Linked DNA regions of Homo sapiens. The protein of the gene in region 1 interacts with the protein of each later gene in a pairwise test. Each region holds a gene or a part of one and is shown in the gene's direction. Other genes may lie near its edges.

What was found.
Region 2: the proteins of NUP58 (region 1) and KLC3 interact in binary tests that used the Homo sapiens proteins (3 or more experiments, as listed by UniProt).
Region 3: the proteins of NUP58 (region 1) and ABI3 interact in binary tests that used the Homo sapiens proteins (3 or more experiments, as listed by UniProt).
Region 4: the proteins of NUP58 (region 1) and ELK3 interact in binary tests that used the Homo sapiens proteins (3 or more experiments, as listed by UniProt).
Region 5: the proteins of NUP58 (region 1) and TSACC interact in binary tests that used the Homo sapiens proteins (3 or more experiments, as listed by UniProt).
Region 6: the proteins of NUP58 (region 1) and ZNF488 interact in binary tests that used the Homo sapiens proteins (3 or more experiments, as listed by UniProt).
Region 7: the proteins of NUP58 (region 1) and MRI1 interact in binary tests that used the Homo sapiens proteins (3 or more experiments, as listed by UniProt).

What each region holds. Positions count from the first base shown.
Region 1 is NC_000013.11:25,304,625-25,308,124, forward strand, and holds part of NUP58 (nucleoporin p58/p45), read left to right. Parts: intron 1-2,979; exon of another isoform or gene 2,980-3,016; intron 3,017-3,181; coding exon 3,182-3,324; intron 3,325-3,500. UniProt on the Homo sapiens protein: Component of the nuclear pore complex, a complex required for the trafficking across the nuclear membrane.
Region 2 is NC_000019.10:45,343,750-45,347,249, forward strand, and holds part of KLC3 (kinesin light chain 3), read left to right. Parts: intron 1-1,784; 5' UTR 1,785-1,792; coding exon 1,793-2,050; intron 2,051-2,794; coding exon 2,795-3,025; intron 3,026-3,500. UniProt on the Homo sapiens protein: Kinesin is a microtubule-associated force-producing protein that may play a role in organelle transport. Plays a role during spermiogenesis in the development of the sperm tail midpiece and in the normal function of spermatozoa.
Region 3 is NC_000017.11:49,220,707-49,223,725, forward strand, and holds the end of ABI3 (ABI gene family member 3), read left to right. Parts: intron 1-1,363; coding exon of another isoform or gene 1,364-1,384; coding exon 1,385-1,519; intron 1,520-1,845; coding exon 1,846-2,009; 3' UTR 2,010-2,519; downstream 2,520-3,019. UniProt on the Homo sapiens protein: May inhibit tumor metastasis. In vitro, reduces cell motility.
Region 4 is NC_000012.12:96,249,875-96,253,374, forward strand, and holds part of ELK3 (ETS domain-containing protein Elk-3), read left to right. Parts: intron 1-3,500. UniProt on the Homo sapiens protein: May be a negative regulator of transcription, but can activate transcription when coexpressed with Ras, Src or Mos. Forms a ternary complex with the serum response factor and the ETS and SRF motifs of the Fos serum response element.
Region 5 is NC_000001.11:156,337,355-156,341,325, forward strand, and holds the start of TSACC (TSSK6-activating co-chaperone protein), read left to right. Parts: upstream 1-1,171; 5' UTR 1,172-1,251; exon of another isoform or gene 1,252-1,385; coding exon of another isoform or gene 1,386-1,416; exon of another isoform or gene 1,417-1,510; intron 1,511-1,547; exon of another isoform or gene 1,548-1,571; intron 1,572-2,279; 5' UTR 2,280-2,380; coding exon of another isoform or gene 2,381-2,403; coding exon 2,404-2,437; intron 2,438-3,971. Other genes in the region: CCT3 (T-complex protein 1 subunit gamma), read right to left, coding at 800-830.
Region 6 is NC_000010.11:47,367,294-47,370,793, reverse strand, and holds part of ZNF488 (zinc finger protein 488), read left to right. Parts: intron 1-1,856; 5' UTR 1,857-1,964; coding exon 1,965-2,987; 3' UTR 2,988-3,500. UniProt on the Homo sapiens protein: Transcriptional repressor. Plays a role in oligodendrocyte differentiation, together with OLIG2. Mediates Notch signaling-activated formation of oligodendrocyte precursors.
Region 7 is NC_000019.10:13,767,522-13,771,021, forward strand, and holds part of MRI1 (methylthioribose-1-phosphate isomerase), read left to right. Parts: intron 1-837; coding exon of another isoform or gene 838-926; exon of another isoform or gene 927-1,039; coding exon 1,040-1,216; intron 1,217-1,302; coding exon 1,303-1,527; intron 1,528-2,056; coding exon of another isoform or gene 2,057-2,076; exon of another isoform or gene 2,077-3,500.

The sequences.
Region 1 (3,500 bases):
TCCTGCCTCAGCCTCCCAAATAGCTGGGATTACAGGCACGCCACCACACCCGGCTAAATTTTTTATTTTTATTTTTGGTATTTTTAGTAGAGATGGGGTTTCACCATGTTGGCCAGGCTGGTCTCAAACTCCTGACTTCAGGTGATCCATCCACCTTGGCATCCCAAGGTGCTGGGATTACAGGCGTGAGCCACCACACCCAGCCGGCAGTAATGTTTTAGTATCCCCCAAATACTCATTTACCCTACTCCACATTATACACACAACAGTGTCAAAATAACAATACGATCAGACTACTACCAGCTAAGCTAAATGTTTTGGCATATATGCCCCTTTTATGGTTGTACTACCTATGTTGTCTGGATATAGCCATTACATACTATATTCTTTTGCTTGTAGCGCTCACTTAGGTTTCTGTGTGTGTGATCTCACTTAGTTTTGATTGTAGCAATATGTTGTTAAAAATACCTTTTAAATTAAGACTAAATGTTTAAAGATCTGTGGGGTTTTTTTTTTTTTTTTTTTTTTTTTTTTTTTGAGACAGGGCCTTGCCCTGTCTCCCAGGCTGGAATGCAGTGGCGCAATCTCAGCCCGCTACAACCTCCACCTCCTGGGCTAAAGTGATCTTTCCACCTCAGCTTCCTGAGTAGCTGGGATTACATTCAGGTGTGCATTGGCACGCCTGGCTAATTTTTGTTTTTTGGAAGTTTTTTGTTGTTGTTTTTTCGGTAGAGAGAGTTTCACCATGTGGCCCAGGCTGGGCTCAAGCTTCTGGGCTCAAGCAGTCTGCCTACCTCAACCTCCCAAAGTGCTGGGATTACAGGTGTGAGCCACCCGGCCTGGTCAAGATCTGTGTTTTAATTGTTAGCGAGAGCTTACCGCCCTGCTTTGTCTCCTGCCTCGCCTTCATATGCCCAAGGTGCACACAAACACATTTTAAAAATCAGTACTTCTCCTTTTACCTACTCAGTATGGATGGCACATCTCAAGTTCTACCCTTAATAAGCTCCTCCACCTCCATTCCCCTCACAGTGATTAGCTCTTTGCCTCAAACTTCTGCAGTATCTCTTTGCCATCGTTTGGTACTTGATTATAATCTTACTTATAGTAATTCTAAACTTACTGAAGGTGTGTACATTTCTACTGCTTGAATTATCTCCTGCTTGAGTATTTCTTTTCCTCCTTGTCTCCCAGTGTTTGCAAAAATTTGAGTGGCTTCTTAAGCTGATTATGAAATTGAAGACACCCGGACCCAAGTAACTTGGAGAACTCTTCTGGCTTGGAGTACAGTTATTTGTGTTGTTTATCCCCCTGGTAAACGGCATGTTCCTTGACTAGGGGACATCTTTCTGCTCCCTTGCTATTCCTGGCATAACGCCTTGTACATAATATGTTTAGTTAAATTTATAAGTATCCCTAATGATAACAGTCATAACAACATTTATTGAAGTTAATTCATCCTGTGCTCTGAACCCTTATATTTAAAAAAAAATTCTGCTGGCCGGGTGCGGTGGCTCACGCCTGTAATCCCAGCACTTTGGGAGGCCGAGGCAGGTGGATCACGAGGTCAGGAGATTGAGACCATCCTGGCTAACATGGTGAAACCCTGTCTCTAGTAAAAATACAAAAAATTAGCTGGGTGTGGTGGCAGGCACCTATAGTCTGAGCTACTCCGGAGGCTGAGGTAGGAGAATGGGGTGAACCCGGGAGCCGGAGCTTGCGGAGTGCCACTGCACTCCAGCCTGGGCAACAGAGTGAGACTCCGTCTCAAAAAAAAAAAAAAAAAAAAAATCTGCTAAGTGGGTACTGTTAATTCCTGTTTTGCAGATGAGGAAATAGAGGCTCAGAAAGGTTAAGTAATGGCACACAAGTACCAGAACATGGGGGGATTGGTACTGGAACCCAGCCACACTACTGCTGCCAGGGCTTTTGAGACTTTAAAAATGACATTGGGTTCTCCCATGGTGATTATTCTTTATGGAAGGGCAGCAAAGGAAATAATAAAGATAAATATGTAGGATAAAGAGAATTTGCCATTATGCTGTATAGTCTCCCTTAAATCTCCTACATAATTTTGGAAGTGTCAACTTGTCAAAATTTGCTTATTTTCACAGTTTGTCTTCCCACCTTTTCATAGCAAATCTGAACCCCTGAGTCTTGATAAGAGTAGTTGAAAAGTTGTGAAGTTTGTTCACTTTCACTTGTTTTTATCAGCTGTTCTTTTTTTAAGCTTTGCACTGTGCTCTGAAGAGTTTCTGTTAATGAATACATGATCCTGAGACAGGGTGATTTTGCTTTGCGTTTAACTTTTGCCAGGAAATGTCCCCACTAGTTTTTCTATGCTTTTTTTGGTGGTAAAATACCTAAGTCTATACTCTCCCCAACACCACATTGCCCCATGAATGTGGTAATGTAGCAATGGAAAGCTAGTGAAGATAATTTAAAATAACTTTTCTATGACCATTTAAAAATATGCTAGGTTTCAAACATTGGTGAAAGCAGAATAATTGTGATCCCTACTTATGATTACCTTGAGATCTGGAATCCTTATTGCTGTAGACTGCTTTTCTTGAAATCTGGTATTGTATTTTTTTTTTTTTTTTTTTTTGAGAGGGAGTCTCGCTCTGTCACTCAAACTGGAGTGCAGTGACACTATCTCAGCTGACTGCGACCTGCCTCCCGGGTTCAAGCAATTCTCCTGCCTCAGCCTCCTGAGTAGCTGGAATTACAGGCGTGTGCCACCACCACACCTGGCTAATTTTTGTATTTTTGGAAGAGACGAGGTTTCACCCTGTTGGTCAGGCTGGTCTCGAACTCCTGACCTTGTGATCCACCTGCCTCGGCCTCCCAAAGTGCTGGAATTACAGGCATGAGCCACCACACCCAGCCTGAAATCTGGTATTGTATTTTTTAAGACTACTTTTACATGTGGATTTATTTTTTTTTAAGACTACTTTTACATGTGGATTTATTTTTAAGGAAGAACAGAAACATATTTGAACTTGATGGGTTAAAGGTAAATTTATTTTTCTTTTTGGGTCCTATGACAATGTATTAGATATGTTATGTGAATGAAATTATCTTGAAGAGTTAATTTTTATTTTTCTTAAGTAAATATTGGCTCTAGTAGACCTCCTTTTGTGCATGTGATTTTTGTTTTGTTTTTGTTTCTTTAAATAAGCAACCCTTCTGTGGGGCTCAATTTTGGAAATCTTGGAAGTACTTCAACTCCAGCAACTACATCTGCTCCTTCAAGTGGTTTTGGAACCGGGCTCTTTGGATCTAAACCTGCCACTGGGTTCACTCTAGGAGGAACAAATACAGGTGAGGAGGATCTGATCACATTGTCAGAGAGTAGGCTTGGGATATTCTTTCCTAAATTGTGTCCTGTATCTCTCTTTACAAGGATCATCACTGGTAGTAGACCTTAAAAAATGGTAAATGCTAAGATGAAAAGAAATGCAAGGAATTGGAATTAAGGGCTAGTGATAGGCCCAATC
Region 2 (3,500 bases), on another chromosome or scaffold:
AAAAGGAAAATGTAAATGTTTTTACTGAGTTGTATATTTAATAGGAGAAAGTGAGTGCGTGTTCTAAGAGGAGAATGTATATTATGCTGTCCTTTCTTTCTTTCTTTTTTGACTGGGTCTTACTCTTTCACCCAGGCTGAGTGCAGTGGCACTATCATGGCTCACTGCAGCTTCAACCTCCTGGGTTCAAGCAATCCTTCTACCTCAGCCTCCAGGTACACCATCACCACACCCAGCTAATTTTTTTATTTTTATTTTTGTAGGGATGGGGTCTCACTATGTTTCCCAGGCTGGTCTTGAACTCCTGGGCTCAAGTGATCCTCCTGCCTCAGCCAAAATCCCAAAGTGCTCGGAGTACAGGTGTGAGCCACCGCACCCGGCCTACATTGTGTTTCTAATGAGGGAGTGTGTGTGTGTGTGTGTGTGTGTAACTGTATTTCTGGGAGGGTGTGTGTGTGTACCGTCTTTTTTTTTTTTTTTTTTAAATGAAGTCTCACTCTGTTGCCCAGGCTGGATTGCAGTGGTGCGACCTTGGCTCACTGCAACCTCCGCCTCCCGGGTTCAAGCAATTCTCCTGCCTCAGCCTCCCAAGTAGCTGGGACTACAGGCATGCGCCACCATGCTCTGCTATTTTTTTTTTTTTTTTTCCAGTAGAGACAGGGTTTCACCCTGTTGGCCAGGCTGGTCTTGAACTCTTGGCCTCAAGTGATTTACCCACCTTGGCCTCCCAAAGTGCTGGCATTACAGGCGTGAGCCACTACACCTGGCCCCATGTTGTATTGGAGAGAAGGGAGAGTGCGTGTGTGTGTCAAATTGTATTTCGGAGAGGAAAATGTGTATGTTGCATTGTGTCTTTAAGAAGGGAGGGTGCGGGTGTGTGAGGTGTTTCTGAGGAGTGTGTTTGTGTGTATATGAGGACCCCAGAGGCACCACCAGCTAAGTTTCTGTGACCTTGTCACCCACATACAACCACATGAAGTCCCATAGAGGGGGGCCCCCACCCACTATGAGCTGGGCTTCAGACTCTCAGCTGTCACATGGCCAGTGTGACATACCTGGACCACACCTATCACACGTGTGTCCCGACAGGCCCTGGGCTGGCTAAGCTTGTCCGATGGAGGAGGGCGGAGCCCCTGTTCCCCCAGGGTCCATCTGTTGCCTGGGAGCCAACACATGGCCCCATCCTCATTCCCCCCAACCTAGAGGCCTCCTGGGCTTCTGGGGGCCCTGGCCCCTCGGCCCTCTCCTCCCACCCCACCCACCCCCAGTGGTCTGACTGGTTCCCGACAAAAACACCCTAAGAATGAGCTCACGCAGAGGCTGCCGCCTCCACACGCCCCGCCTCACTCTGCCGGCAGAGGAGGGTGCCTCTGGTCCCAGGTCACACGGCCAACCGGGAGCTCTGGGCCAGGGGATCCAAGGGCCTTGGGGTGGGGAAGGCTGGCCAGGTGAGCTGAGGGCAGATGGGGGACCCCAGGCTAGCTGTTTGCTTTCTCTTGGTTAATTACACATAGGATTTGGGAACTGTCCTCAGGGCAGAACCCTGGGTTGGGAGGACAGACGAAGGTAGACAAGACTGTTCCAGATGAGAGCTGGCTGGGATGGGTGTGGAGACTGGGATGGAGAGGGTGTGGAGGCAGAGGGCTGGCCAGGATGGGTGGAGCAGGGAAGAGCCAGGATGGGGAGAAGTTAGGGGTCCTGATGGCCATTATGGGAATAGAGGCTGGGGGCCAACTGACTGGCCCGGGCAATGATTCCCCAAACCCCTCACCATTGCTCCCCAGGAGCAGCAATGTCTGTGCAGGTAGCGGCTCCTGGAAGTGCAGGGCTGGGCCCAGAGCGCCTGAGCCCTGAGGAGCTGGTGCGGCAGACGCGGCAAGTGGTCCAGGGGCTGGAGGCGCTGCGGGCAGAGCACCATGGCCTGGCTGGGCACCTGGCGGAGGCCCTGGCGGGACAGGGCCCGGCAGCCGGCTTGGAGATGCTGGAGGAAAAGCAGCAGGTGGTGAGCCACTCGCTGGAGGCCATCGAGCTGGGGCTGGGCGAGGCCCAGGTATGAGGGGGCCAGGTGGGGAGCTGGGGGAAGGTCAGCTGAGGGCGGAGGGAGGGCCAGGCATGAGGGGGACAGGTATGTAGGGGACTGGGAGAGGGTTCACTATTGCAGAGGGGCACACTTTGGGAGGCTGAGGTGGGCAGATCACTTGAGGTCAGGAGTTCAAGACCAGCCTGGCCAACATGGGAAAACCCCATCTCTACTAAAAATACAAAAAGTAGCTGGGCATGAGGGCTCCTGTAATCCCGGCTACTCAGGAGGCTGAGGCATGAGAATCGCTTGAACCTGGGAGGCGGAGGTTGCAGTGAGTGGAGATCGTGCCATTCCACTCCAGTCTGGGTGACAGAGAGAGACTGTCCCAAAAAACAACAGAAAAAAGTATGGCAGAGAGGCACATCCGGGGCAGGGGGAGGCCTAGGGGAACCAGGCCTGGGAAGGGGAGGCTCCAGGTCAGAGATGGAGTCCCTTGGCAGCTTTAGGGGGTCCTTGTGTGTGACAGGGACCCCTGAACCAGATGGCATTCTTCAGTAAACTGTGGGTCCTAGGGCAAGTTTGGGGGTAAAATCAGAGGGGCCCCTGGGAGCCTCTGAGGGCACTGGGGCCATGTTGGCAGAGTCTCTGCAGAATCTGGGGGTGTCGTGCATAGTAGTGGGGTGCTACGGCCTGACTCGAGGCCTGGGCTGGGTCAGGGGCCGTCTGGCAGGGCAGGAACCAACCTCGACTTGGGACCCCCACCCCGGGCAGGTGCTGCTGGCCCTGTCGGCACATGTGGGTGCACTGGAGGCAGAGAAGCAGCGGCTGCGCTCGCAGGCCCGGCGGCTGGCCCAGGAGAACGTGTGGCTGCGGGAGGAACTGGAGGAGACGCAGCGGCGGCTTCGGGCCAGCGAGGAGTCCGTGGCCCAGCTGGAGGAGGAGAAGCGCCACCTGGAGTTCCTGGGGCAGCTGCGACAGTACGACCCACCGGCGGAGAGCCAGGTGCCACGGGCAGGGCGAGGCGGGGGGTGCTGGGCCCTTCATAGAGCCCCACAGTCCCCCAGACCCTCCTTAGAATCCCACAGTCCCCAAGATCCTCCTTAGAATCCCACAGTCCCCCAGACCCTCCTTAGAATGCCACAGTCCCCCAACCCTCCACAGAGCCCCCAGACCCACCAGAACTTCCACAGACGCCCCCACTAGCTACTCCACGAAGCCCCCGAGCCTCGCCAGACCCCCAGGGGGCCTCTGACGCTCGTGACCACCACCTCCCTCAAACCTTGAGATAGGCTGGGTGCGGTGGCTCACGCCTGTAATCCCAACACTTTGGGAGGCCGAGGCGAGCAGATCACCTGAGGTCCGGATTTCAAGACCAGCATGACCAACATGGAGAAACCCCGTCTCTACTAAAAATACAAAATTAGCCGGGTGTGGTGGCACATGCCTGTAATCCCAGCTACTCCGGAAGCTGAGGCAG
Region 3 (3,019 bases), on another chromosome or scaffold:
GGTGGCGCAAGCCTGTAATACCAGCTACTCGGGAGGCTGAGGCAGGAGAATCGCTTGAACCTGGGAGGCGGAGTTTGCAGTGAGCCGAGATCGCGCCATTGCACTCCAGCCTGGGCAACAAGAGCGAAACTCCATCTCAAAATAATAATAATAATAATAATAATAATAATAATAATAATAATAATAAACTTAATCCTAAGGGCCAGGCGGGGTGGCTCACGGCCGTAATCCCGGCACTTTGGGGGGCTGTGGAGGGCGGATCACTTGAGGTCAGGAGTTTGAGACCAACCTGGCCAACATGACTAAAAATACAAAAATTAGCCTGGCGTGGTGGTGCGTGCCTGTAATTCCAGCTACTCAGGAGGCTGAGGCAGGAGGATCACTTGAACCCAGGAGGCAGAGGCTGCAGTGAGCCGAGATCACCACACTGCACTCCAGCCTGGGTGACAGAGGGAGATTCCCTCTCAAAAAAATAAAATAAAGGCCGGGTGTGGTGGCTCACGCCTGTAATCCCAGCACTTTGGGAGGCTGAGGTGGGCGGATCACGAGGTCAGGAGATCGAGACCATCCTGGCTAACATGGTGAAACCCTGTCTCTACTAAAAATACAAAAAAATTAGCCGGGCGTGGTGGCGGGCGCCTGTAGTCCCAGCTACTCGGGAGGCTGAGGCAGGAGAATGGCGTGAACCCGGGAGGTGGGGCTTGCAGTGAGCCGAGATCGTGCCACTGCAATCCAGCCTGGGCGACACAGCGAGACTCGGTCTCAAAAAAAAATAAAACAAAATAAACTTAATCCTGAGAGGGTCTTTACCACTCTCCGTTAACAGATGAAGCCACTGACGCTGAGGTTCAGTGACTTGCCCAAGAGCCACCCAGCTAATAAGAGGCAGAGTCTGACCGTCCTCTACTGCTGGATCTTTCAGGGTTTACTGAGCACTTAACTATGTGCTAGCAGCACTGTGGGAAGACCAGGACAGGAGAGGGCTGGAGGAAGATTGCATGAAATGGGTGCATTCTTTTTTTCTTTTGAGATGGAGTCTCACTCTGTCATCCAGGCTGGATGGAGTGTGTTGGCAAGATCTCAGCTCACTGCAACCTCCACCTCCTGGGTTAAGCCATTCTCCTGCCTCAGTCTCCCGAGTAGCTGGAATTACAGGCGTGTGCCACCATGCCCGGCTAATTTTTGTATTTTTAGTAGAGACAGGGTTTCACCATGTTGGCCAGGCTGGTCTCGAACTCCTGGCCTCAGGTGATCTGCCCGCCTTGGCCTCCCAACGTGCCTCGCTGAGATGGGTGGATTCTGGGGTCCAGCTCTTGAGCAGTTCCCTGACACACTGAAGGAGCTTCCTGTGCCACACTTACAGCCTTTCTGCTTTTCCCCCAAGACGAAGAGCTGCCCCTGCCACTGGACCTGCCTCCTCCTCCACCCCTGGATGGAGATGAATTGGGGCTGCCTCCACCCCCACCAGGATTTGGGCCTGATGAGCCCAGCTGGGTGCCTGCCTCATACTTGGAGAAAGGTACCTGACTTCTGGGACTGAGGGGCACCGGATCCCACTTCCTCTGTTGCCCTGATCCCCATTCTCCTCCCTCTGCAAAGGTGTGAATCTATCCCCCGGGCCCCCCACACAATTTTTCTGACGAACTGACAGAACTGGGGAGAGGGCAGCTGGCCTGGTATTAAATATTAACTAAGCTGGGGAGGGGTCCTGAAGGCTTGCAAGAAGGCCCCCAAGATGGCCCCTAGAGTCTAGTACTTGAGACCGTGCATCCCCATGGTGGTGGGGGGTGAGGGGGAGAGGGCAAGAGGCATTATCTCACGGCACCCTCTTCTCTTGCCCTGCAGTGGTGACACTGTACCCATACACCAGCCAGAAGGACAATGAGCTCTCCTTCTCTGAGGGCACTGTCATCTGTGTCACTCGCCGCTACTCCGATGGCTGGTGCGAGGGCGTCAGCTCAGAGGGGACTGGATTCTTCCCTGGGAACTATGTGGAGCCCAGCTGCTGACAGCCCAGGGCTCTCTGGGCAGCTGATGTCTGCACTGAGTGGGTTTCATGAGCCCCAAGCCAAAACCAGCTCCAGTCACAGCTGGACTGGGTCTGCCCACCTCTTGGGCTGTGAGCTGTGTTCTGTCCTTCCTCCCATCGGAGGGAGAAGGGGTCCTGGGGAGAGAGAATTTATCCAGAGGCCTGCTGCAGATGGGGAAGAGCTGGAAACCAAGAAGTTTGTCAACAGAGGACCCCTACTCCATGCAGGACAGGGTCTCCTGCTGCAAGTCCCAACTTTGAATAAAACAGATGATGTCCTGTGACTGCCCCACAGAGATAAGGGGCCAGGAGGGATTGAAAGGCATCCCAGTTCTAAGGCTGCTGCTAATTACAGCCCCCAACCTCCAACCCACCAGCTGACCTAGAAGCAGCATCTTCCCATTTCCTCAGTACCCACAAAGTGCAGCCCACATTGGACCCCAGACACCCCTCTGCAGCCATTGACTGCAACTTGTTCTTTTGCCCATTGCTTGCTGTGTGTGTGGTGTGTTCATATGTGGCTGGGCACTTGCCCAAGAGTGGGAACGATCTCCATGACTTAAGCGGGGCTCTCCGAGAGCACCTCACTGTCAACTCTGAGACTGTCGCGAGAGAGATCTCAGTCATTTCTTCCCCCTTCACCTCCTTTATAGTTGTAAAACACCAGAGGAAGGAGGGGCTTGGGTTTCGCTGGTTCTGCTTAAAAACATGGCTTTCTGTTCCATGGGGGGTGGGGGGGATGCGTGGAAGGCCCAGCCCGCGAGGGTGACTTTGGTGAAGTCCCTGGTCTCTTGCTGCATAGACGAGGCTGGGATGCAAGGAGACACCGTCACTCTCTGCGAGGTTACTGGCTGTCCGGACCCGAGCCGGACGGTGCGCTACCTCGTACCACCACCAGGAGGCGATTGTTCCTCTGGCTTTTCCTTTGGGGGTGCTAGAAGGGAGTGCGGGGGTCGGGAGGCAAGAGAGTGTGGACAGCACAGAAATAGT
Region 4 (3,500 bases), on another chromosome or scaffold:
GCATGGCCTGAAACTAGGTGGGAAGGCGTAGGAAAGCCAGGATCTTTACAAGAGGACCTGTGCCTTAGGCAGTGAGGGTGCCTGGTCCTCAGCCAAGCTGTGAGGGTGGGGCTGTGATGATTTAGTGCCAGGAAGCCCAGAAATGGTCCTGAGGGGAGGGAGGCAACAGGCAGCATCTGGACCCAGGGCAGGAGAGTGGAAGTAAAGGGACCTGGCTCAGAGAGGGCCTTCGGGTCAAAGGAGGAGGAGGGGCACCAGGCAGTCCTCTAAACCACGCAAAACTAAGGGGGTCACCAGCTACACTGGGAGATGGTAGAGCCTCGGGACTCAGACCCCACTTTGAACTTCCCTCACATTCCCAGAGTGTGGGCTCTGCTCCTGGCATGGCCATGGGTGGCCAACAGGGAGGGAGAGAAGGGGCAATGAGGGAGACACCAGAGGGGCCCGGGTGGTAGTCAGGGGTGTGGTACTTATTCAGAGTTGAGTTCTTGCAGCCGGTTTCACCCAGGCGGATTCCCTGAGATCAGATAGGATATCTTGAAGCCAGGGGTGGTTTAGGATTAGGGTATGTCAGTGTCAGATTTGGACTCTCAGATTCCCTCCCCTGGGAGCTGCTTCAGGGGGTGCCCCAGAAACTCACCCACCAGCACCAGCTCAGTAGTTTGTCTTCCAGGTGACAGCCAGAAACAGCGTGGCTCTCAACAGCCAGGCATTCTGTGGAATTCCTTTCGGCCTCAGGAGTGAAGGACAACTGTGGGGTTCAGGGTGTTCCACAGGCAGCAGTGAGGCTTCAGTGGTTTTCCTCTTACCTGAGCACTTTGTCACAGAAACTCTCCTTTTCTCTGTGTGTGGGGGGTGTGCTGTGTGCAGTGTGATGCTGTGTGCACATAAACATTTGATAATCTGTGGGCTGTCAGCTTTGCTTAGTGGTGGGCTTTGGAAGAGGTGAAAGCTGTGTGTGCTGTAATAACCCGATACCCTGAAGGTACAAATTCCGAAGGTTGGTTATTTCCAGCTAGAATCATGGCAGGAAGAAGGGGAGAAGTAAGGGAGCCTTGGCATGGCCTGTGTCACGTGGTTACCTTATCACACCTCATACAGGCATCCCTCATTTTACTGTACTTTGCTTTATTACGTTTCACAATTAATTGGTGGTTTTTACAAATCGAAGGTTTGTGGCAACCTGGCGCTGAGCAAGTCTTGTCAGCGCCAGTCTGTTCTTCCAACAGCACACACTCACTCCGTGTTTCAATGTCACATTTTGGTAATTCTCAAACATTTCCAACTTTTTCCTTACTATTATGTCTGTTATAGTGCTCTGAGATCAGCGAGCTTTGATACTACTATTGTCATTGTTTTGGGGCACCATGAACCACACCTGTATAAGACAGCAAACTTGATCAGTGTTGTGTGTGTCCCAACTGCTCTCCTGTGTCAAACTTGATCAGTGTTGTGTGTGTCCCAACTGCTCTCCTGTGTCTCCCTCTCCTTGGGTCTCCCTATTCCCTGAAACACAACAATTTTGAAATTAGGCCAATTGATAACCCTATAGTGGCCTATAAAGTGTTCAAGAGAAAGGAAGAGCTGCGCATCTCTCATTTTAAATCCAAAGCTAGAATGATGACGGTGAAGGCATGTCCAAAACCGAGACAGGCCTAAAGCTAGGGGGCTCTTATACCAGTTAAGTATGTAAATGTAAAGGAAGAGTTCCTGAAGGAAATGAAAGTGCTACGTCAGTGAAAACATGAATGATAAGAAAGTGGGACATCCTGATTGTTGATATGGAGAAAGTTTTAGTGGTCTGGATAGAAGATCAAACCAGCCACAACATTCCTTTCAGGCTAACCCAGAGCAAGGCCCTAACTCTTCAATTCTTTGAATGCTGAGAGAGGCGAAGAAGCTGCAGAAGAAAAGTGTGAAGCTAGCAGAGGTTGGTTCATGAGGTTTAAAGAAAAAAGCCATCTCCATAACATAAAAGTGCAAGGTGAAGCAGCGAGTGCTAATGGAGAAGCTGCAGTAAGCTGTCCAGAAGATCTAGCTACGCTCATTGATGAAGGTGGCTACGTCAAACAGCTTCACTGTAGGTGAAACGGCCTTCTACTGGAAGAAGATGCCATCTAGGACTTTCATAGCTGGAGAAGAGAAGTCCATGCCTGGCTTCAGAGCTTCAAAGGACAGGCTGAGTCTTGTTAGTACAGCTTGTGACTTTAAGTTGAAGCCAGTGCTACTAAATACACTCTGCCTGTGCTCTGTAAATGGAACAACAAAGTCTGGACGACAGCACATCTGTTTTCACAGTTTATGGAATAGTTTAAGCCCAGGTGAGACCTACTACTCAGAAAAAAGATTCCTTTCAAAATATTACTGCTCATTACAGTGCATCTGGTTACCCAAGAGCTCTCATGGAGATATACAAGAAGATTAATATTTTTCATGCCTGCAAATACAACATCCATTCTACAACCCAGAAGTCAAGGAGTAATTTTGACTTTCAAGTCTTATTACTTAATAAATACATTTCATAAAGCTACAGCTGCCATAGATAGTGATTCCTCTGATGGATCTGGGCAAAGTCAATTGAAAACCTTCTGGAAAGGAGTCACCATCCTAGATGCTATTAAGAATATTCATGATTCATGGGAGGAGGTCAAAATATCAACATTAACAGGAGTTTGGAAGAAACTGATTCCAGCCCTCATGGATCACTTTGAAGGGTTCAAGACTTCATTGGAGGAGGGAACTGCAGATGTGGTAGAAATAGCAAGAGAACTAGCATTAGAAGTGGAGCCTGGAGATGCAACCAAATTGCTGCAATTTATTGATCAAACTTGATTGGGTGAGTAGTTGCTTCTCACAGATGAGCAGAGAAAGTGGTTTCTTGAGATAGAATCTACTCCTGTTGAAGACGCTGTGAATATTGTTGAAATGACAACAAAGGACTGAGAATATTACATAACTTTACATTACATTACTTAGTTGATAAAGCAGCGGCAGGGTTTGAGAGGATTGACTCCAATTTTGAAAGAAGTTCTACTCTGGGTAAAATGCTATCAAACAGCATCACATGCCATAGAGAAATCTTTCATGAAAGGAATAATCAATTGGGCCAGGTGCGCTGGCTCACGCCTGTAATCGCAGCACTTTGGGAGGCCAAGGCGGGTGGATCACCTGAGGTCAGGAGTTCAAGACCAGCCTGGCCAACATGGCAAAACCCCGTCTCTACTAAAAGTACAAAAATTAGCCAGGTTTGGTGGCAGATGCCTGTAATCCCACTACTTGGGAGCCTGAGGCAGGAGAATCACTTGAACCTGGGAGGTGGAGGTTGTGATGAGCCGAGATCACGCCACCGCACTCCAGCCTGGACAACAAGAGCGAAACTCGCATCTCACCAAAAAAATAAATAAATAAATAAAAGAGTCAATCAATGTGGCAAACTTCATTATTGTCTTATTTTAAGAAACTGCCACAGCCACCCCAGTCTTCATGACTCTGCCTCCTTG
Region 5 (3,971 bases), on another chromosome or scaffold:
CAGAGATCGCGCCACTGCAACCCAGCCTGGGTGACAGAGCGAGACTTTGTCTCAAAATATAAAAAGAAAAAAAATAAGGGATCTTCCAAAAGGAAAAGGTGACCAGTCGAGAAATCTGGGAAAACCCAACTGGTTAGTGGGAAAGAGTACAACGCCGGGGACACGGAGGGAACGATTACATCTAAGATCAGTGAGGCAAGTACGGTTACTTCGGGAAAAGGGATTGCTGTTCAAGAGACTGTTACTGAAAATAAATGTAACGTAAAGTGACCAAGGATATTACCTATTTACCAGACCCTCTTTAAGCAGTCTACCGACTTACCTCATTTAATTCTCACAATTCTACTAGGAAATACTGTTAACTCCGTAATACAGATTGAAACATTTAAATTACCGCTACTAAGGGATGGGCCAAGAATATAAAGCTAGACCTAACTGAAAAAAAAACAAAAAAAAACGTTATTCGTGCAGCTACATAGCGACAATCAGGCTAGAAAGGGCGCAGGGGCGGGGGAAGCGTGGGGGCTGAGGGACAGAACGCGGAGTGGGAAAGAGCTTCCCAAGACGAGCACACGTCAAGGAAAGAGGCTCGGCGAGAATAAGGCCAGTTTGAGTTTGTGCAGAGAAGCGAACAGGTTAAGAGAAGAGAGGAAAGCGGGACACTGGGCTTCCAAAATGAAGACGATGATTGGAAGGCTCAGTGGCCCGGTCAGTGGGGGACGGAGCTGGGGCAACACTGAAAAGTATGGACAGAAGAGGGCGAAAAGGGGGTCCATTTCCTGGCATCCCCAGAACTCACTGAGCACGAGCACTGGACGATGGCCCATCATGGCGACGCGATGCAGAGCCGGGTACCCAGAGCTGGGGGAACCGGCAGAACCTTCTGGAGAGAGAGAACCAGACAGAAGCCCAGAAAACGCTGCCTCCTCAGGGCTTACACCTCAACCCGCTACTCTCAAGGTAGTCGCCAATCACCGCACCCATCTCATTGATCGGCACAAAAACAGACCAATTGACAGCCTTAGTCCCGCCCCCTACGCAAGAACGGCCAGACAAGTTAGACAGAGAGCGCACGACGAAGGCACTGGGAGGGCACAGGCGCTTGCGCAGTAGGGTGGCCGCTCCCGGCCGCGTGCAGCGCGAACGTCGGCGCAGGCGCCAAGGCTCTGGCAGTTGGCCAGCACACCACTACGCATGTGTGTCAACTCTAGGGTTGGGTGCTGGGGTTGCGGCTTTCGGTTAACACCGCAGGTGAGGTCGTTAAACTGTGTATTGCGACTCGGCTCCTATCGGACCGTGAAGGCTAAGAAAGGCTTCACAGTTCCCACTCTTTTGGTCTAGCCTTAGCAACAGGTGGACTAGAGAGGCGGGACTCCAGCCAGCACATGGGGGAAAGACCTGCCGGCTTGGCGCAGGGTGAAGTGGGAGTTGTAGTCTTACCGGGCCGGACTGCGCAGCCTTTTTCCGGGCACACTGGGAGTTGTGGTTTATCGCCTCTGGACTAATGGCTGTATGTGGACTTTTCCCTTCTTAGGAAATGCTTTCAGTGAGGCTGTGAGCAGTACCGGAGGGTGATGGCTTGCGTTTCCTTAAGTTATCCTATCTAAAATATTTTCCCAAGTATTTCCGCCGGGCGCTGTGGCTCACGCCTGTAATCCCAGCACTTTGGGAGGCCGAGGCGGGTGGATCACCTGAGGTCAGGAGTTCGAGACCAGCGTGGCCAACATGGCGAAACCCCGTCTCTACTAAAAATACAAAAATTAGCCGGGCGTGGTGGCGCGCGCCTGTAATCCCAGCTACTCAGGAGGCTGAGGCAGGAGAATCGCTTGAACCCTGGAGACGGAGGTTGCAGTGAGCCGACATCGTGTCACTGCACTCCAGCCTGGCGACAGAGCGAGACTCCATCTCAAAAAAAAAAAAAAAAGTATTCCCTGTGGTGCTTTGAGATTTTTTTCCCCCACATCCATCCCTCTCCCGCTGTCCTGAGTCTTAGTTAGAGATGATGGGGAGCCAGAGTTTTAAAATTACCATTCGGGATAGGAGAAGGACTTATCATACCGTGGAAATTAAACATGGTGAGAACACGGAAAGTAACTGCCTGTTCGTCAGAGACGTTTAAGGTTTGGGTTTGGTTAAATTACTATTTTGTCCAGAAAAAAAAGGAAGCACTAAAGGAAAACTGTTTTCCAAACTAGTGAAGGGGCCGTGAGAGCACCAACAGTTCAAGAACAGTCACCTGTTTGGCCATGAAATAGAGTTTCCTACTTTTTCCTCTGCAGATTGGAACAGGCTGAGATCTGCTGGAGACAACTTAGGAAATTATCATAGTGAAAATACTAACATGGATTGTTGATCATCTGATGCTATGATTCTTTCCCAGGCACCACACCTGTTGGTGTTCAGATGGAGCGGCACACTAGTCATCCTAACAGAAAAGGTGTGTGTTGGAGGCCCTGCTTCCCCTCCCTTAAAAAGCAAGACCTCCTTTGCATTCCCCACTAAATGGGAGCATTGCTGTATTCCCAGCACCTAGAACTGGATCTGTTAAATAGTAGATGCTCAGTAATTATTTGTTAAATGAATTTATTATTCTTCCTTTGTATCTCCTCTTAATACTTAGAACAAGACTATGTACAGGATCTTAGAAGACATGGTGTTAACTAGAGTGAAGAGATACTGAGTTGTAGTGGGACAGCCCCATTGGTGGGCCAGGGAAATGCCTGAGGCCTTCTGACTCCAGAGCCTATCCACTTAACTTTAGCTGGATCAGATTATCTGAAAGACCTACCATTCCATAGCCTGGACATAATTTTTTTTTTGTTTAGACGGAGTCTCGCTCTGTCACCCAGGCTGGGGTGCAGAGGCACCATCTCTGCTCACTGCAAGCTCCGTCTCCTGGGTTCACGCCATTCTCCTGCCTCGGCCTCCTGAGTAGCTGGGACTGCAGGCACCTGCCACCATGCCCGGCTAATTTTTTTGTGTTTTTAGTAGAGACGGGGTTTCACCGTGTCAGCCAGGATGGTCTTAATCTCCTGACCTTGTGATCCAACTGCCTTGGACTCCCAAAGTGCTGGGATTACAGGTGTGAGCTACCGCCCCCGGCCTTTTTTTTTTTTTTTTTTTTGAGATAGAGTTTTGCTCTTGTTGCCTAGGCTGGAGTGCAGTGGCACTACCTTGGCTCACCGCAACCTCTGCCTCCCGGGTTCAAGCAATTCTCCTGCCTCAGCTTCCCGAGTAGCTGGGATTGCAGGCGTGCACCCCCACGCCCAGCTAATTTTGTATTTTTAGTAGAGATGGGGTTTCGCCATCTTGGTCAGGCTGGTTTCGAACTCCTGACCTCAGGTGATCCGCCTGCCTCGGCCTCCCGAAGTGCTGGGATTACAGGTGTGAGCCACCGCGCCCAGCCCCAGCTTGGGCATAAATTAACTGGCTCTTTTCACAGAGTATATAGTGCAGTGGTAAAGAGCATGACTTTGGAGTCTACAGGACCAAATTTAATTCCAGCTGCTATTTGCCAGACCCTCTTAAGCAGTTTACCTACTTAGGATCACTGCCACCTCTGTCTCCTTGATTCAAGTGATTCTTGTGCCTCAGCCACCCAAGTAGCTGGGATTACAGGTGTATGCCACCACGCCTGGCTAATTTTTGTATTTTTAGTACAGACTGGGTTACGCCAGGTCTTGAACTCCTGGCCTCAAGTGATCCGCCCACTCTGGCCTCCCAAAGTCCTGGGATTACAGGCGTGAGCCATCGCGCCTGGCCAGTTTACCACTTATTTAATGCTCACGATTCTACTAGAAAATACTATTAACCCCACAACAGATCGAAACATTTAAATTAACTGCTACTAAGGGATGGGCTAAGGGTATAAAGCTAGGCCTAACTAAAAAAACATTATTCATGCAGCCACACATATCAACTGTGGAATCTTGAGCAAATTTCATGACTTAAGTTTCCTCAAGTGAAATGTA
Region 6 (3,500 bases), on another chromosome or scaffold:
CAAATCTATAATCTTTTTGTCCTTTTGCCTCCTCAGCATTCGTTCATAAGCATAGCGAGCATCACTGTCCGAGGCTGCACAGTGCTTCGTCTTGCGTATGCATCCTGCTTTGTTCACCATGTCTCTGGAGTTACGCATTTACTTGCTTGTTGCTTTCACCACTATAAACCATGCCTCATTTCCCTCTCCTGTTAGGCAGATCTGACCCTTCAGCCTGCCTCTTCCAGCCATGGTCAGACTGTTGTTAGTCCAGCGCCTGAGGGAGAGTACTTTCAGAGTTCCAGGCCCTTGTGTGACCTCCACCCTTAAGGTGACTCTTGGCACCCACAGGCCAATCAGCTGTATTCTTAGAGAGCTCTCAGAATACAGGCTGGTGGGCTATTTCCCTAAGGAAAAGCTGGGTGGGTTCTCACTGGGGTTGGAACCAAGGGGAGATGAGGAAATGGGAATAGGTTGGACGCCCTTGGTGGAGCTTCATAGTTTGATTTTACATCAGAGTTGGAAAGCAAAGCATACCCTTCTGCTACAGCTAGTGGTTTCCCCACCTGCGCCTGAGCTATGGACTGGGCAGGGGCCAAGTGCCCAGCAAGGAGCACAGGGAAGGAGCAGGAGGTGGAGAAGCTCAGAGGCAGGCTGCAGTAGGCTCCTCGCCCTTCTCACCATGCGGATGTCTCCTCCCTTGGCCCTATGGGAATATGGAGGGCTCACATTCTCCTCTCTGTGCAGGAGCAGGTCTCCACACTCTTTGGGAGGAGGAAGTTGACTTCTTTCTAACAGTTGCTGTCCTGTCATTCATTCATTCATTCATTCATTCAGCAAAGGCTTCCTGAGCTCCTGTCCTGTTGCAGGCTTGATTAAGTACTACAGATGTGAAGGTGAATTGACATATTTGGGTTCTTAGAGTTTGCCTTCTAGCAGACCACAAACAAGTAAATATAATGTTGCACGTGGTGCATGCAGGCCTTTGGTGCCCAGGACAGTGAGGGCATGGAGGAGGGAGTGTTGTCTGTGTCTGAGAGCACTGGGCAAGCCTCAAGGGGAGACTGTGCCTGAGGTGCATTTTGGAATGAGTTCACAGGTACGATGGGAATGAAGCTGCCCACATGTACTTGGGAGTTGGGGGAAGAGTGGGGACACTTGACTCTCACAAGAAGCATGGCTCTGAGAAAATCAGAGACCGCGCAGAAGCTGACAGGGCATGTGATGTGGACAAAGGGGCCACCAGGCTGGGAGGCAGGTCTGGTAGACCGAGGAGCAATGGGTTGAAATTAGGGTCGGGACAGAGAGGGCTGCATGAGGAGCAAAGACCATGAAGTCCATGGTCCTCCAACACTGCGACCCTCATGCTGCGGCCTCCCTGTGCCCTCAGCACTCAGCCAGGGCCAGAGGTAGCTCGAGCATGGAGCAGGGGCTGAGGGTGCATGGCTTCCTCATGATGGAGTCTACTTGTTGACAGATGACCCAGAAACTTCTGAAGGGCCCCCAAGGCCCTAATGCAGCCCCCAGAGCAGGCTCTTTCCCTTCCCCTGCAGACTCTCCATTTCATGCCTGGTTAATCCCCAGGAACCACTTTTGACAGGGGAATCCTACGTTTCTCTCTACTGAGCTGTAGAGGCTGCTGCCCATGGGCATTTTCAGCAGAGACCTCAGTCCCTACTCTGCCTCAGGGAGGTGGGCCCTGGAGGATGGTGCCATCCATGCTCCTTGTCTCCTGAGAGGTGGTGCAGTCAGCACACCCATCCCACAGACAGCGGAGGAGGCCTGAGCATCAGGGTCCTGTCTGATGCCAGCTCATGATGCACTGTGCCTGAGTGATGAATGCCCATCTCACTGCCTGTCGCTTCCTCTCTCTGCAGGGCCCTGTGGCCGAGTGTGTCCAGCCCAGTGTCATGGGGAGCTTCCATATCTCATGGCTCCTTGCTGGGCCAAGCCCTCCAGAACCCCAAACCCCCAAAGACTGATGAATGCCAGAGTGGCCACCTTGCTTATCTGTGGCCCCGGCCCTGGTGATCACCATGGCAGCTGGGAAGGGAGCCCCGTTGAGCCCATCGGCTGAAAACAGATGGCGACTTAGCGAACCTGAGCTGGGCCGGGGCTGCAAGCCAGTGCTGCTCGAGAAGACGAACCGCCTGGGCCCTGAGGCTGCTGTGGGCAGGGCGGGCCGGGATGTGGGCAGTGCGGAGCTGGCACTGTTGGTAGCCCCAGGCAAGCCCCGACCTGGCAAGCCGCTGCCCCCGAAGACACGTGGAGAGCAGAGGCAGAGCGCCTTCACGGAGCTGCCGAGGATGAAGGACCGGCAGGTGGATGCTCAGGCCCAGGAGAGGGAGCACGATGACCCCACAGGCCAACCTGGTGCCCCACAGCTGACCCAGAACATCCCCAGAGGCCCAGCTGGCAGCAAAGTCTTCTCTGTGTGGCCCAGCGGAGCACGAAGTGAGCAAAGAAGCGCCTTTAGCAAACCAACCAAGCGACCAGCAGAGAGGCCTGAGCTAACCTCAGTCTTCCCTGCAGGGGAATCTGCAGATGCCCTGGGGGAGCTGTCTGGACTCCTCAACACTACAGACCTCGCTTGTTGGGGTCGACTTTCAACTCCCAAGCTTTTGGTTGGTGATTTGTGGAACTTGCAAGCATTGCCACAGAATGCTCCACTCTGTAGCACTTTTCTGGGTGCCCCTACACTGTGGCTGGAGCATACCCAGGCCCAGGTGCCCCCACCCTCATCATCCTCCACCACTTCGTGGGCCCTCCTGCCACCCACCCTCACCTCCCTGGGCTTGTCCACCCAGAACTGGTGTGCAAAGTGCAACCTGTCCTTTCGCCTAACGTCCGACCTGGTCTTTCACATGCGATCCCACCACAAAAAGGAGCATGCGGGGCCTGACCCACATTCTCAGAAGCGGAGAGAAGAGGCCCTTGCCTGCCCTGTGTGCCAGGAGCACTTCCGGGAGCGCCACCACCTCTCCCGGCACATGACTTCTCACAGCTAGCAGGTGACCGCAGAATGACCTGCTGGGTGCAGCAGCCAGCCTTTGGCAGAGGGGGGCTCCCTGGGCCTGCGTTGAGGGGGCTGTCATGGTCCTTTGCAGAGCTGCTGCTTTTGGCATTCATAGATAAACAGCTCAGGCATAATTTGAAAAAGCCACACCTGCATGATGTGTTTTGAAGGAAATGAAGTCCTGAAATAAAGTGATGGGCTTTGCAAATCCAGGGTAGAGGCCCTAACAGGCACAGAGAGCAGGGGCAACTCCTGGCACACATCATGGGCTTTGGAGGCACACAAGCCTGGATTCGAATCTGGGCTCTTTCACATACTAGCTGTGACCCTGGACAAAGAGCTTTAACCTGCTGAGTCCCCATTTTCTCATCTGTGAAATGGAGATGATAACACTGTGTCTTAGGTTGGCATTCAGGTCACATGAAAGGTGTGTGGAAAGTGGCCAGCATTCTGCCTGCAGACCCTGAGCACTGAGTCAACAAGGTTTGTGATGATGTCTGTACTA
Region 7 (3,500 bases), on another chromosome or scaffold:
AGACCCTGTCTCTATTTTTAAGCCTGTAATGCCAGCACTTCGGGAGGCCAAGGTGGGCGGATCGCTTGAGCTCAGGGGTTCAAAACCAGCCTGGGCTTCATGGCAAAACCCCATCTCTACAAAAAATACTAAAATTAGCTGGGTGTAGTGGTATGCACCTGTGGTCCCACCTATTCGGGAGGGGACTGAGATGGGAGGATTGCTTTTTATTTATTTATTTATTTTGGAGACAGAGTCTTGCTCTGTCACCCAGGCTGGAGTGCCATGGCACGACCTTGGCTCCTTGCAACCTCTGCCTCCTGGGTTCCAGCGATTCTTTTCAAGTATTTTCTTTCTTTCCTTTTTTTTTTTTTTTTTTTTTTTTTGAGACAGAGTCTTGCACTGTTGCCCAGGCTGGAGTGCAGTGGCGCAGTCTCGGCTCACTGCAAGCTCCGCCTCCCAGGTTCACGCCATTCTCCTGCCTCCGCCTCTCGAGTAGCTGGGACTACAGGTGCCCGCCACCACGCCCGGCTAATTTTTTGAACTTTTAGTAGAGATGGGGTTTCACCGTGTTAGCCAGGATGGTCTCGATCTCCTGACCTCGTGATCCATCTGCCTAGGCCTCCCAAAGTGCTGGGATTACAGGCGTGAGCCACCACGCCCAGCCCAAATATTTTCAATCCACATGGTTGAGTCCATGGATGGAGAACCCATAGAAAAGGGGGGCTGCCTGTACACATGAGGTGTTAGAAGGTGATAAATGCTAAGGACAGAGAGCAGGAAACTGAAAGTGTGGGGATTGCTATGCAAAACTGATATATCAGGGAAGGCTTCACCGAGAAGGTGTCCTTTAAACAGACGTGAAACGGAGCTATGCGAGCATTGGGAAGAGCATACCAGGCAGAGGGAACTGCCACTGCGAGGGCCCCTGGGCGGGACTGTGCTCGGTAAGCCTTTGGCAATCCACGCCCAGACTAGGAGCCTGCACCCCTAACCAATGGACCACCCTGTCTGTTTGCCCCTCCCCGGGGCCTTCTCCTGGTGGGTGGGGCCCCCGCAGGTGTGATTCGCTCACTGCACAGCCTGGGCCGCCTGGAGCATGCCTTCTGCACAGAGACCCGGCCCTACAACCAGGGAGCCCGGCTGACGGCCTTTGAGCTGGTCTATGAGCAGATCCCCGCCACCCTTATCACCGACAGCATGGTGGCTGCTGCCATGGCCCATAGGGGCGTGTCAGGTAAGCAGACGGTAAGCCCTGGGGGCGGGGCTCTGGAGCATGGGGCCAGGTAATGACCCCCAACTTCTCATACGCCCCCTCCCCAGCTGTGGTCGTGGGAGCTGACCGCGTGGTTGCCAACGGCGACACAGCCAACAAGGTGGGCACCTACCAGCTGGCCATTGTCGCCAAGCACCATGGCATTCCCTTCTACGTGGCTGCCCCCAGCTCTTCATGTGACCTCCGTCTGGAGACCGGCAAGGAGATCATTATTGAAGAGCGACCGGGCCAGGAGCTGACCGATGTTAATGGGGTCCGGATTGCAGCACCTGGTAAGCTGCCCCCTCAGAAAGGGGACACCCCAGCTCCTGGGCACTTCATGGAGGCAGGTGATATGCAGGTCCTTGTCATCCTTCTGGAACATACACAGCTCCTACAAGCCACTTTTTCTTTTTTCTTTTTTTTGAGATGGAGTCTTGCTCTGTCCCTCAGGCTAGAGTGCAGTGGCACGATCTGGGCTCCCTGCAACCTCCACCTCCCGGGCTCAAGCAGTTCTCCTGCCTCAGCCCCCCAAGTAGCTGGGACTATAGGTGGGTGCCACCACGCCTGGCTAATTTTTGTATTTTTAGTAGAGATGAGGTTTCAACATGTGGACCAGGCTATTTATTAACTACTGACCTCAAGCAATCAGCCTGCCTCTGCCTCCCAAAGCGCTAGGATTACAGGTGTGAGCCACAGCACGCCTGGCCCAAGCCACTTCTTCTAACAGGTGCATCCTGGAGGTCAGATCCAATGTTGGAATTTACAACTAACCGGTTATATGAATGATCTTGAGTAACTGTCTTGCTATTCTCCACTTAGGTTTTCTTAAGAGGAAATAAGAATATCTGGCTGGCCACGTGTTTGTAAAGAAAAACCAAGACGGCCAGGCGAGGTGGCTCACACCTGTAATCCCAGCACTTTGGGAGGCCGAGGCGGGCAGATCACAAGGTCAGGAGTTCGAGACCAGCCTGGTCAACATAGTGAAACCCCGTCTCTACTAAAAATACAAAAATTAGCCGGACATGGTGGCACCCGCCTGTAGTCCCAACTACTCAGGAGGCTGAGGGAGGAGAATCACTTGAACCTGAGAGGCGGAGGTTGTGGTGAGCTGAGATTACACCATTGCACTCCAGCCTGGGCAACAGAGTGAGATTCTGTCTCAAAAAAAAAAAAGAAAAGAAAAAGCAAGATATTTCTACACTTATTTTTATTTGTTTATTTTCATAGAGATAGGGTCTCGCTATGTTCCCCAGGCTGGTCTCAAACTCCTGGCCTCAAGCGATCCTCCTGCCTCAGCCTCCCAAAGCACTGAGATTACAGGTGTGAGCTCCCATGCCTAGCTGCAAGACTTTTCTTAGCTGCCTATACTTCCTGGCTGTGCAACCGTTAGCAAGTTCCCTAAATTCTCTAATTCCCTAAGATCCTCACTGGTCCTATCTGTAAAATGGGCTATGGCTAGAACCTGCTGCATAAACCCAAGGGCGGTCAGTGAATTAACCCACAGGACATTTAGATCAATGACTGGCCCTTTAAATAGTTCATGCACTCAGATGCCGTGGCTCACGCCTATAATCCCAACACTTTGGGAGGCGGAGGTGGGCGGATCACTTGAGGTCAGGCGTTCCAGACCAGCCTAGCCAACAGAGCGAAACCACGTCTCTACTAAAAAAATATAAAAATTAGCCAGGCGTGGTGGCACATGCCTGTAGTCCCATCTACTTGGGAAGCTGAGGCATGAGAATTGCTTGAACCTAGGACGCAGAGGTTGCAGTAAGTTGAGACTGCACCACTGCACTCCAGTCTGGGTGACAGAGCGAAACTCCATCTCAAAAATAAAAAAAAAGGCCGAGCGCTGTGGCTCACGCCTGTAATCCCAGCACTTTGGGAAGCCGAGGCGGGCGGATCACCTGAGGTCGGGAGTTCAAGACCAGCCTGACCAACATGGAGAAACCCTGCCTCTACTAAAAATACAAAATTAGCCGGGCGTGGTGGCACATGCCTGTAACCCCAGCTACTCAGGAGGCTGAGGCAGGAGAATTGCTTGAACCCGGGAGGCGGAGGTTGCAATGAGCCAAGATAGCGCCACAGCACTCCAGCCTGGGCAACAAGAGTGAAACTCCATCTCAAAGAAAAAAAAGAAAAAACAGTTCATGAAATATTAGCATGAACCAATATTAGCATTATGGGGCCAGGTAAAATGGCTCACACCTGAAATCCCAGTATTTTGGGAGGCTGAGGTGGGAGGATCACTTGAGCTCAGGAG